4 linked regions of the Homo sapiens genome follow. The protein of the gene in region 2 interacts with the protein of the main gene of each other region in a pairwise test. Each region holds a gene or a part of one and is shown on either strand. Other genes may lie near its edges.

What was found. The genes of interacting proteins can lie anywhere in the genome.
Region 1: the proteins of SPTBN4 (region 2) and MORC3 interact in a two-hybrid assay, tested with the Homo sapiens proteins (one large-scale study listed by BioGRID and IntAct).
Region 3: the proteins of SPTBN4 (region 2) and RPS6KA6 interact in a two-hybrid assay, tested with the Homo sapiens proteins (one large-scale study listed by BioGRID and IntAct).
Region 4: the proteins of SPTBN4 (region 2) and CDKL5 interact in a two-hybrid assay, tested with the Homo sapiens proteins (one large-scale study listed by BioGRID and IntAct).

The regions. Positions count from the first base shown.
Region 1 is NC_000021.9:36,374,665-36,377,132, forward strand, and holds the end of MORC3 (MORC family CW-type zinc finger protein 3), read left to right. Parts: intron 1-478; coding exon 479-632; 3' UTR 633-1,968; downstream 1,969-2,468.
Region 2 is NC_000019.10:40,571,501-40,575,000, reverse strand, and holds part of SPTBN4 (spectrin beta chain, non-erythrocytic 4), read right to left. Parts: intron 2,983-3,500; coding exon 2,809-2,982; intron 2,664-2,808; coding exon 2,621-2,663; intron 1-2,620.
Region 3 is NC_000023.11:84,115,200-84,118,699, forward strand, and holds part of RPS6KA6 (ribosomal protein S6 kinase alpha-6), read right to left. Parts: intron 2,256-3,500; coding exon 2,185-2,255; intron 1,950-2,184; coding exon 1,861-1,949; intron 1,089-1,860; coding exon 1,030-1,088; intron 1-1,029. UniProt on the Homo sapiens protein: Constitutively active serine/threonine-protein kinase that exhibits growth-factor-independent kinase activity and that may participate in p53/TP53-dependent cell growth arrest signaling and play an inhibitory role during embryogenesis.
Region 4 is NC_000023.11:18,635,108-18,638,607, reverse strand, and holds part of CDKL5 (cyclin-dependent kinase-like 5), read right to left. Parts: 3' UTR 1-3,500. UniProt on the Homo sapiens protein: Mediates phosphorylation of MECP2. May regulate ciliogenesis.

The sequences.
Region 1 (2,468 bases), on a different chromosome or scaffold from region 2:
TGGGCCTGTGCTTCCAGCTACTCAGGAGGCTGAGGTGGGAGAATTGCGTGAACCCTGGAGAGCAGTGGTGCCATCGCAGCTCACTGCAGCCTTGACCTCCTGGGCTCAGGTGATCCCCCACCTCACCCTCTTGAGAAGCTGAGACTACAGGTGTCGTCACCAAGCCCGGCTAATATTTTGTGTTTTTAGTAGAGTCAGGGTTTCACCATGTTGGCCAGGCTGGTCTCGAACTCCTGGGCTCCAGCGATCTCCCTCCTCGGCTTCACAAATGCTGGGAATACAGGCATGGGCAAGTGCACCTGACTCATAAAAGTGAATTATTAAAGTAAATTGAGTTCTCTAGGGGAGGTTTTGCTTTTCCTTTTGTTTAATTGTATATTATTCTACGGAGATTTGATTTTGATATTTTACTTTTTAAGGTCTACATGAATCTTAACTTGTAATGCTCATCTAATAAGTTACATATTTGTATTTGCAGCCTCAAACTCCGATCTCTTCGAGTTAACGTAGGACAACTGCTGGCTATGATTGTGCCTGATCTTGATCTTCAGCAAGTGAATTACGATGTTGATGTAGTTGATGAGATTTTAGGACAAGTTGTTGAACAAATGAGTGAAATCAGTAGTACTTAAAGTATATGTTATGTAAGATAAAATATTTGCTCAATTCTTTTGGTTGTACAGCTTTCAAAATATAATTAATTTTGTTTTATAGATATGATAGGCAACAGACTGAAAACCATAATCTTTACTGTATTCTATGCATTCAAATGTGGTCACAAATATTGTGGACACATTATCTTATGTTTTGAAATACCTGTGAATTGTTGGCATTGAGCAGCTGAAGCTAACTCATGACTCTGTTTTGAATGTAAATATTTGTAATTAAGCCTGCACATATTTTTTTATTGCCCTAGAGTACTCAAGTGTTTTTCACCAAGAGCTTTTCAGGTTGCCCCTAAGCTTTGTGCAATTTTTTCTGGTTCCCCAAAGTGTATTTTTCTCTAAGTCGAGGGCTATGCCATAATACAAATGGAAATGTTACCTTTGATTTTCTTATAAAGGAGTTTAAATAGGATTTTTAAATAATGTAGTAACACTCCTGATACAACTCTGGTTATAAGTGAATTGAGCATTAATGTTTCTTTTGTATAAATTCCTGTCCTGAAATATTTTATTCATGAAAATAAGGTAAGCAAAAACCAACTCCATTTTGCCAGGATTTTGTTGTGCTGAGATTGCCAATCACGGTTAAACACAAAGTGTTTTTATAGAATGAAGAAACAGTCTTTAACAGAAAAAAGGTATTGAAATATTAAATGGCCACCAAGTTTACTTTGAAGCCCATTTTTGGCTGTTTAGTCAGCATGAAGTGGGCATGATAATTTTTTAATATTTCTTTTTGTGAAATTTCCTGTACAGCCTTTTGTAGGATTACTACAGGTTAATGTGAGTTGAGGAAGACAGTCTTTCTCAAACAATACTACATACCTTTTATTATATTACAAACCTAAGTGTTTTATATCCTAGAGTCAAGGAACAAATTTCCTTAGGATTATAGTATTACATGCCATAAAATACTATGCTTTATTGGTCCCATGTTTTGTGCAATTTTAAAGAGATGGCTTTCTATTAAGTATAAACTATGTATATATAAGAACCATATTTTCCACAACTAAAATGTGCATTATTTTTTCCAAAGTTTTATCATTGCTATTTATTTTTACCTTTGTTTTTGAACATTCAATCCGTTCATTTTGTATGTATGCTTAATACGTGTCGGTCATATACAGTATTGAATTTTTACTGTATAGTAATTCTGGAAAGAGCAAATAAATGAAGATTGTTTTTATTTGCCTGATAAAGTAATTGAAAGTGTATTTTTGGTATGAAGCTGGTTTTCTGTCACAATTGTAATTTCCCAAATTTTAAAATATCTTATAATAAAATAAAAATATATGATGGCTAACTGTTCAAATGCTACTTTTAAAGACTTAATATTAACCTCAAATTATTTTAAAACTAAAAATGTATTCATTAGACCCTCAACTTGAGCTCATTTTAACTACTTTAATTGCAGTTTATTTTTTGAAGACTGTTTCCATTAAGACTGAGGCTGAGCTCCTCTTTCCTCAGAGCATGTATATTCTGTTTTCAAAAGCTTTTTCTCAGCCTGGCGCAGTGGCTCACGCCTGTAATCCCAGCACTTTGGGAGGCCGAGGCGGGCGGATCACCTGAGGTCGGGAGTTCAAGACCAGCCTGACTAACATGGAGAAATGCCGTCTCTGCTAAAAATACAAAATTAGCCGGGTGTGGTGATGCATGCCTGTAATCCCAGCTACTCAGGAGGCTGAGGCAGGAGAATCACTTGAACCTGGGAGGTGGAGGTTGCAGCGAGCCGAGATCACACCATTGCACTCCAGCCTGGGCAACAAGAGCGAAACTCCGTCTCAAAAAAAAAGGACTTTT
Region 2 (3,500 bases):
CTCTGTCCCCCAGGCTGGAGTGCAATGGCTCGATGTCAGCTCACTGCAACCTCCATCTCCCAGGTTCAAGAGATTCTTGTGCCTCAGTCTCCTGAGTGTCTGGGACTACAGGCACGTGCCACCATGCCTGGCTACTTTTTGTATTTTTAGTAGAGATGGGGTTTCGCCACGTTGGCCACACTGGTCTTGAACTTCTGACCTCAAATGATCTGCCCACCTCAGCCTCCCAAAGTGCTGGAATTACAGGTGTGAGGCACCATGCCAGGCCAAGAAACTATTTTTAATCTTCATTGTGCAGATAAGTAAAAGAAGGCATGTAGTGGGTAAAGGCCTACTTCTGGCCGGGTGTGGTGGCTCATGCCTGTAATCCCAGCACTTTGGGAGGCTGAGGCGGGTGGATCACCTGAGGTCAGGAGTTTGAGACCAGCCTGACCAACATGGAGAAACCCCGTCTCTACTAAAAATACATAAATTAGCCGGGCATGGTGGCGCAAGCCTGTAATCCCAGTCACCCAGGTAGCTGAGGCAGGAGAGTCGCTTGAACCCGGGAAGTGGAGGTTGCAGTGAGCTGAGATTGCGCCATGGCACTCCAGCCTGGGTGACAAGAGAGAAACTCTGTCTCAAAAAAAAAAAAAGCCCACTTCTTCATTGCATCTTGTGAAGATTGAATGAGATAACAAGTGTTAGTTATTACTCTCAACATCTCTTCAAACCACCTTTATGCTTGCCTCTCTCAGACTCCTCTTCCTCCTCTCCCCACAGGCCTGTGTGGCCCAGCCATGCGCTCTCCCACTTGGGTCCCTGCCCTGGCCGCGGCCTGGGCTACCCACCCAGGTAGCCAAAGGAATCTTTTTTTGTTTTGTTTTGTTTTGTTTTGTTTTGTTTGTTTGTTTTGTTTTGAGATGGAGTCTCGCTCTGTCGCTCAGGCTGGAGTGCAGTGGCGCAATCTCAGCTCACTGCAAGCTCCACCTCCCGGGTTCAAGCCATTCTTCTGCCTCAGCCTCCCAAGTAGCTGGGACTACAGGCGCCCGCCACCATGCCCAGCTAATTTTTTTGTATTTTTAGTAGAGACGGGGTTTCACCGTGTCAGCCAGGATGGTCTCGATCTCCTGACCTTGTGATCTGCCCGCCTCGGCCTCCCAAAATGCTGGGATTACAGGCGTGAGCCACCATGCCCGGCCTGTTTATTTTGTTTTTGAGATGGAGTTTTGCTCTTGTTACCCAGGCTGGAGTGCAATGGCGCTGTCTCAGCTCACTGCAACCTCTGCCTTCCGGGTTCAAGCAATCCTCCTGCCTCAGCCTCCCGAGTAGCTGGGATTACAGGCATGCACCATAAGAGATGGGGTTTCTCCATGTTGGTCAGGCTGGCCTCAAACTCCTGACCTCAGGTGATCCACCCGCCTCGGCCTCCCGAAGTGCTGGGATTACAGGCGTAAGCCACTGCGCCCAGCCAGGAATCTTTTTTACACATCACTGTAATCCCCCCTAGCTCTCCAGTGCCCTTAGGTAAAAAATCCAATCTCCTCCAAATGGCCCATCCTGTCCTGAGACACCTATCTCCTGGGAACCTTTCTGGGACCTTCTTCCATGAACTCTGCCCTCCAGCAGTTAACCCTTTGCAATACTGCACCTCTGGTCCTCTGCACTTGCAGTTCCCTCTACCTAGATCACCCACCCCCTCTTGTTTTTGAGACAGAATCTCACTCTGTCACCCAGCCTGGAGTGCCATAGTACAATCACAGCTCATTGTAGCCTTGACCTCCCTGGTTCAGGTGATCCTTCCACTCGGCCTCCTGAGTAGCTGGGACCACAGGCATGTGCCACCACTCCCGGCTAATTTATTATTATTATTACCCATAGAGATGGGATCTTTCCGTGTTGCCCAGGCTGATCTTGAAGTCCTGGGCTCAAGCAGTCTCCTGCCTTGGCCTCCCAAAGTGCTGGGATTACAGGCCTGAGCCATGGTGCCCAACCTGAATCACTCCTTTTTTTAGACCCCCACTGTCCCTCTGAATCACCCTTTTTATTTTTATTTTATTTTCGAAGGAAGTCTCGCTGTTGTCCCCCAGGCTTGAGTGCAATGGCTCCATCTCAGCTCACTGCAACCTCCGCCTTCCAGGTTCAAACGATTCTCCTGCCTCTGCCTCCCAAGTAGCTGGGATTAAGGCACCTGCCACCATGCCCAGTTAATTTTTGTATTTTTTAGTAGAGACGGGGTTTCACCATGTTGGCCAGGCTGGTCTCAAACTCCTGACCTCAGGTGATCTGCCCGTCTTGGCCTCCCAAAGTACTGGGATTACAAGCGTGAGCCACCGCGCCTGGCCAAATCACCCCTTTTTAAAGCGAACTCCCTCCATTCCAGTCTCACCTGAGTGACCACGGCAAAGATGTTGGACTTTGTCATCAGGATCTGCAGGCAGCCCTCCCTGAAGCCCTTCCCACTCCCCACTGGGTTAGGAACCTCCTTTGGGCTCTCAGTGCCTGTGGGCTTTCCCATTACAGCCCTGATAACTCTGGCCTGTGAGTGTCCCTTCTCACAGCCCCATCACTCTGGGTCAGGAGCCAGACAGCCAGGTCATTACTGAGGTCCACACAGAGGGAGGAAAGGACCAGATCTCACCTCATCTTTTGCCTGGAGCAAAAACTCACTGCCATCCTGGGTCCTGCAGGAAGGGACACAGGACTTCAGAGATCTGGGGAAGGGGCCCAGCCCACCTGCCCACCAAGTGTCCCCCAGGGAAGCCAGGGTCCCACTGGGAGTTGAAGCTGAGCCTTGGATCCCTCCCTCCTGCCCATTGGGGGGCTCACTGGAGCTTGAAGACATGCTTCTTTTTCTTGTAGTCACTAGCCACCTCGCTGGTGGCCTTGTGCAGGCTGAGCAGCGGTTCCCCACCGTGTGTGCTCCCGGATGCCGGGCCCTTGGAGTCCTTGTAGAAGCCCAGTTCCCCCTTACTAAGCACACAGTACAGGCTCACCCACGACCTGGAGCGACAAGATGGGGCTCAAGGCAGAGCCGCAGCACTCTGCCTAATAACTCTTCATTAACATCCTCAAGGTCTGAATATGTCTGAGCCTTCCTACCTCTGGACCTTTGCGCCCTAGTTGCGCCCTAGTTGGACCTAAAATGCTCTTCCTTAAGGCTGTTGCTGCCCTGAGGGGAGCATTTAAGTCTCTCAGTATCAAGCCTTTGCCCAGGCTGAGATTTCCCTTCCTTATCCCCTCCCATACTGAATTTCCTGAAGGTAAGTCTTAAGCTGTCTCCTCCATAAGCCTTTGCTCCACTCAATCCTCCCCACTCATGGAGCTTTCTCAAGGAAAGTCTATTGGTCTACTGTCTGGAATAAAGAATTCCTGTCTCTCCAGTCATCCAAAGCCTCGATCCTGGAGGAATCCCTCCCAAAGCAAAACATACTAGGTGCCCTTGTTTATTCCTACCTTGGCATTAGGTACGAGGAAGAAAGACCACCTACAGATTCCACTAGCAAAATCTGAATCTGTCC
Region 3 (3,500 bases), on a different chromosome or scaffold from region 2:
CCTCTGACAAAAGACTAATATCGAGATCTGCAAGGTACTCAAACAACTCAACAGGTAAACAAACAAACAAACAAACCTATTAAAAGGTGGGCAAAGGATATGAACACGCATTTTACAAAAGAAGACATACAAGCAGCCAACAAACATGGAAAAATGCTCAATATCACTAATCATCAGAAAAATGCAAATTAAAACCACAATGAAATATGATTTTATATCAGTCAGGAGGGCTTTTATTAAAAAGTTAGAAAATAACAGATGTTGGCATGGATGTGGGAGAAAACAGGTACACTTATACACTGTTAATGGGAATGTAAATTAGTACAACCTTTATGAAAAACCATATGAAGATTTCTCAAAGAACTAATAATCAAAAAAATTTGACCCAGCAATCCCACTAATAGGTATGTACCTAAAGGAAAATAAATCATTATATAAAAAGGACACCTGCACTTGTATGTCTATCACAGCACTGTTCACAATAGCAAAGTCATGGAATCAATCTAAGTGTCCATCAATGGTTAATTGGATAAAGAAAATAGGTATATAGACACCATGGAATACTATGCAGCCATAAGAAAGAATAAAATCATTATCTTTGCAGCAACATGGATGGAGGTGGAGATTATTATCCTATGTGAAATAACTCAGAAAATCAAATATCCCATGTTCTCACTTATAAGTGGGAGCTACACAATGGATACACATGGACATACAGATGGAAATAATAGACACCGAGGACTCCAAAAGGGGAGAAGTTAAAAGGGAATTGAGGGTTGAAAAATTACCTACTGGTCACTGTTTGGTTGATGGGTACATTAGAAATCCAAACCCACCATTATGCAATACATCCACGGAAAAAACCCACAAATGCACCCCCAGATCTAAATTATTTTTTTAAGAAAAAGAAAAATAAATATGTATGTAAATATTCCACTGATTTGTTATTTAGATTAAAAGCAATAAATCTTTAATATCCTGTGTTGGTCATATGAAGTTATTCAATAACAAGCTTTCTACTTAACTTACATCCCAGTCAATATTTGCAAAAAACAGATGTCTTTTGATTTCTTCAACTCCTTCTGATCCTATAAAAAAAAGAAATGATATTTTATTTTTATGATTTTTTTTAGTCTTGCTCCCTGGCTTCCAGACTGCTATCTGTAAACAGGAATACACATATTTCATACATTCCTTGAAAAGAAAAATACATGATTTCTTATCTGGCATTTTATTAGCTGGTCCTTTCATTTTACTGTGATAAAAAATAACTAACATTCATATTGAACTACAATAAAGTGTCTCCCAAATCAAATCAAATAGTATTAAACATAATACTTAAACTTAAATACATATTTTTTCATTCCTAATTTATCTTATGACCTCATATTTATATGCCAAATTGAAAGGTACAAAGGAATAAAGTGACACTGAAATTTTCACACAAGGGCATAAATAATAGGATCGCATCTGGATACAGGGAAAGGCTACCAGAAAGGGGTCAAAAAAGTAGTTACAGAAACATAATATTTACTTTGAAGAATATTGGGGGGGGGCAAAATATCTATCTTCAAATATATAAAAGATTACCTGTACAAGGGAGAATCTGTTTATTATTTCAAAAGAAGTAACCCATAATATATACATAATAATAGGTTGAACAGAAGCTTTCATTAACTAGACTACTTCAGTTTTAAATCATGGACATAACAGAGTTTACTTTGTCTGAAATGCACACACAAAATGAAAAATTCTACGTATAGAAGTAATGTGCTCAAATCAAACAAGAAAACATAAAGATTTAATTATCCTCCCAAAACATGCAGTTACTTCTATAAAAGCTAAGAAAATAAGCAATACCCAATCTATTTGCTGGATTCCTTTTGAATAACATCCTTAGAAGACTTTGTGCTTCAGCACTAAGAAATTGAGGCATTCCAAGTTTTGCTCTGAAACAGAGGATTTTAGAAAGTTTCACTTAAATTTAGCCACATTTTTGATTTGAAAAATCTCAAAAAGAACTTTTAAAAGTGCTTTTACAAGGGTACAGTCCTGTATATGGTAGAAGGGAACAAGACAGTGAGAAAAAGGTACTCTTGTATTATTTTAAAACCGCAATAATTTTTTCAAAACTGAAAGCAAGAGATTTTTTTCCCAAAAGAAAAACATACTGTTTACACTTACTTTAATATCATATTCATGGTCTCATTTCTGTCTTTACCTTGAAATGGCAGAGTACCAGTAAGCATTTCAAACTAAAACAAACAAACAAAACACACCACACAATTAGAACACCTTAGAATATATAATAAGATTCTCTAGAAAAAAACTGAGACTTCTATATAATCATCAAATTGTAAGATCTACATGATAGTAGATCAAAATGGGACCAGAAAACTAGGTCACTTAAAGAAATATACTTCTGGTATCCCACTCTCTCTCTCTATATATATAGCTCAACTGATGGTGACCTGTAGCAGATGAAACCAACCAATTCTTCCTCAGTTCTAATTCGGCTATGTTCTCAAAGCCAAAGCAATTTGAAAATACACACAATGCATTTTCTGTTAAAACAAATATACTCTTTTGAAGAGAATGTTTAATAATAAAGGAAAAGGAAAAATAAGCAGAAAAGCATTTCAAATTCATACATGCCCAAGAAAGATTTAACCATTCTCATTCCCTCCACTGCCCCCAAAACAGGAGCCAAAAAAGAAGTAGAAGCAGCAGAACACACCACCACCACCACCCCCTGCCACACACACACATGCCAATAGCTTTAAAAAAGAAACATACACCTTAGTTGTACACAGAAGAAGGAAAACATTTTCTCAAAGAGAACTGACTGCAATGTGACTAACTAGAACATTAAATAATGGTATAAAAAAAGACTACCTCTAAAAATCATTACGGTACATTAAAGAGAAGTTTTTGTATCACCAGTATTTAAATCTCAAACTTAGATTCAATAATGGCTTTGGCCTTAGTCTTCTACTCATTTATCTGAACTCACAATCTAAGTGAGCTTATACATTCAAGTCTCTTCTGTATCTTAATGTCTCCCAAAATCTGCTGTTCAAGGCTTAATCTCTCTCAAACTCCAGCTTTCCTTCCCAAATCTTAAGTAATGGTACGCCACCAAAGACTGGAGGAGTAGAGGTGAGAACTTCAGGGAGAGAATGAAGGAAGGATCGTATATAGGACTCACATCTTCCCTCAAAGAAACTACACGTTGGGTAGTTAATATATACGTATTAAGGTCTCCAAATGATTCTGATTCTCTCTCCACTACCCCTCCTAGTTTATCACCACCCAGTGGTGAGTCATTAACCTACAGTAACCTATGCTACATGTTAAAAATTATTTTTTCCCACTTCCAAAACCAGCTGTCCTCTTCAGCTATCTCTTCTATTAACTTACCATTCTTTGAACCCCCTAAAGCTCACAAATTTTATAGGCATTTTTATCTTTGACAATTCATTTCTTTTTGATCTGTGTCA
Region 4 (3,500 bases), on a different chromosome or scaffold from region 2:
TTTGCTTACAACAGCATATTATTTACTTCATTCAATTCATGACAGAATGTATAAAAACTAAAACTTTTATTGAGGGAAATCTGAAGCCTAATAGAATCTTGCTGTCAAACACACAAACTATGCTTCCAAGTATCATTTCTTTTGTGGGGGAAACTTTCAATTAAAAATTATACATAGTGTAGGAAAAACTCACTCTTACCTTATTTTAACATATTTACTTTTATTTTTAGAAATGCTAGAGCACGGTCTACACTGGAGTTTGTTTAAAAATTGCGGTAAAATATACACAACATTTGCAGATTTTTAAATAATTAAATGAAATGTTACGAACAAAGAAGTAGCATTAAGTGTTGCCAATATTAAGGAAAAAAAATCTGAGCTGATTCGGGTACTCTGTGTGGGAGGAGGTTACTTGGACAAAGCAAAGGTATTTCCAGATAGAGATGCTGCTGTGAATCCATTCTCAGAGCCCAGAAGATTGCACCCCTAAAGTGACCCTTGGAATGGATGCTCACAGAACCCCATCTTTCTGTCCACTTGGGGCTTGGTTGCTAAGGCCCACTGACAAACAGCTTACAAGGACTGTTGCTTCCCCTGTGGTCCCAAGAGTACTTCCATGCTGGGTCATTCTTAAGCCCAACCTTACAGGGCTGATACGAAGATCAAATAGGCTACGTGCATCTAAAGGGCTGTGCGGACACCTACTGAGCTCTGTGTAACTGGCATTAAAGATTCAGTGACATTCCTTCTCAATTTCCTGAAACTGCCAAATTGGGACAGAAGTAATAGCAATGTTTTACAATAGCAATAATGTTATAAGAGCTCATATTTCTTGAGACTCTCAAGTGCTCTGCAGGTTATTATCTCATTAAATCTTCACAACAACACTGAGGTAGGTACTGTGATTACCTCCATTTAAAGATAAGGAAACTGAGGCATAGTGAAGTGCCTTGCTTCAAGTCACATGAGATGTAGGAGATGGAGCCAAGACTCCACCCAGGCAAGCGGACTCTATATCCTAGGGATTTATTTATTTATTTATTTTTGAGATGGCGTCTCGCTCTGTCGTCCAGGTGGGAGTGCAGTGGTGCGATCTTGGCTCACTGCAACCTCTGCCTTTTGGGTTCAAGTGATTCTCCTGCCTCAGCCTCCCGAGTGGCTGGGATTATAGACATTCACCACCATTCCCGGCTAATTTTTGTATTTTTTTTTTTTTTTTTTTGAGACAGAGTCTCGCTCTGTTGCCAGGCTGGAGTGCAGTGGCGTGATCTCGGCTCACTGCAACCTCTGCCTTTTGGGTTCAAGTGATTCTCCTGCCTCAGCCTCCTAAGCAGCTGGGATTACAGGCATGTACCACCACACCCAATTTTTGTATTTTTAGTAGAGACGGGGTTTCACCATGTTGGCCAGGCTGGTCTCGAACTCCTGACCTCGTGATCCACCCACCTTGGCCTCCCAAAGTGCTAGGATTACGGGCGTGAGCCACCGCCCAGACCTAATTTTTGTATTTTTAGTACAGACGGGGTTTCTCTATATTGGCCAGGCTGGTCTCGAACTCCTGACTTCAGGTGATCTGCCCGTCTCAGTCTCCCACAGTGCTGGGATTACAGGCGTGAGCCACCACACCTGGCCTGATCCTGGGCTTTTAAGCTGCATCCCCAGAGGACCTCCAGTGACTTGTTTCAATGAAGTGTTCTATTCTCAAATTGCATCAATTACCATCTGCTGGGAAAGGGGATGGAAGGTGGCACATAAATTGTTGTGAGCTTTTAGAGAAGAATATGTTATACATCGTGGGGACTTGTTACCTGCTCTAATTAGTATACTTATTCCATCAGTGTAGATAGCCATTTCTAAGTCTGTTACCCTTTCCTTCACTTGACTAAGTTGTCTTTATTTCTGCACCTAGAGTAAACTTCAGGCAAAGTTTTTAATATAACCTGTGTTGGAAACTGTTTTTGAAAATTTGAACCTTGGAGTTACTTGAATAAATCTGAATTACTAAAGAGAAACAATACTGATTGTGACCACATTACCATACGTGGACGTGCAGTGACTTTTAAGGGTATATGGGCTTTACAATGAACATATTCGGCTTCAAATCCTGGCCCTGCCACTTCCAAACTGGGTGACCTTGGGCAGGTTAATGTCAAGTATGGAAATCTGTTTCCTCATTTACAAAAAGGGGATAATAATAGTACCTGTTTCGCTGGGTTGTTGTGAAAATAATAATAATAATAATAATAATAATAATAATAATAATAATAATAAAGCAAAACACTTGGGCATTGTGCCTGGCCATAGTAAGTGCTATGAACATTAAAAAGTATAAGCACCAAATACTTTCATTCAGTCTTGGTAAGATTATAGTTGAAAGCACAGGCCACAAGTTTCCATGTCACTTAAGGAGATAGAGTGAAGAGGTGGTTGACAGAGGACTTTTAAGAATGGAGAGCACTGACTTTCAGCTCCTACCCTTTGTTTAGAAAGAGAAAGAAAACTGGGGAATATTTCATCTATAAGTTATCACAAAAGCTAAGTTCTTTCCCTCCTGATTGAACATGTACTCGGTTGGTGTTACCCTAAATGATGAAACTGAGGGCCTAAAACGGGTTAGTAAACTATGGCCTGTTTCTATAAGTAAAGTTTTACGGGACCACAGCCACACTTACTGATTTACATATTATCCATGCAGCCTCTGCAATACAAAGGCAGAGCTGAGTAATGTTGACAGGGAACTGATGGGCCACAGAGCCCCCAATATTTACCATCTGGCCCTTTACAGGAAAAGCTTGCCCACCTCTCCTCTAGAATCAAAAAACCCTTATTAAGCTGTGCATCTTTGCTTTCTCCATAGCACTTAGCACAAGATTGGCCTCTCTTCCCATCCTCCTCAAACTACCACGTGAGTGTCTAGCGACGTGCAAAGGTGACAACACTCAAGTATAAAACAAACCAAAGTTTTCAAAATGCCGTAAGGGGAAAAAAGCTTTATAAATAGGAAAACAAAGATCAACATCATTAAGTTACAGGATTTGCCTAGTTTTACATTAATTTCTGTCTCAAACTGATTACAACCTCAAAGGCCCATCATCCCTCATTTGAATTCGAATGCATTCTTTCTTCCCAAGAAGGAACTAAAATGGAGCTGTTCGCAGTTCAAACACGAAGGACCACAGTGCTCAAGATTGGGACGGCCTGGCAGTCACATCAGTCAGTGCAAAATCTGCATTTTATTAAAGACATTTGGGAAGATCCATTCAAAAATACATTGTGCTCAGTAAAAATTAACCATTTCATGCTGATAATGAAGGTTATCACGGAATAGATATTTGTGTAATATTTACAGCAACAATAGAAATTTTACATAAGTTTAGAATGGAATTACATGCCAGAAAAAACTTGATAAGATGTACCAACACATGATACAAAGAGTTATAGAAACACTTTACAAATGGTTCATAATTCACTTGTGAGGATTTAAGTATTCAACACTTTAA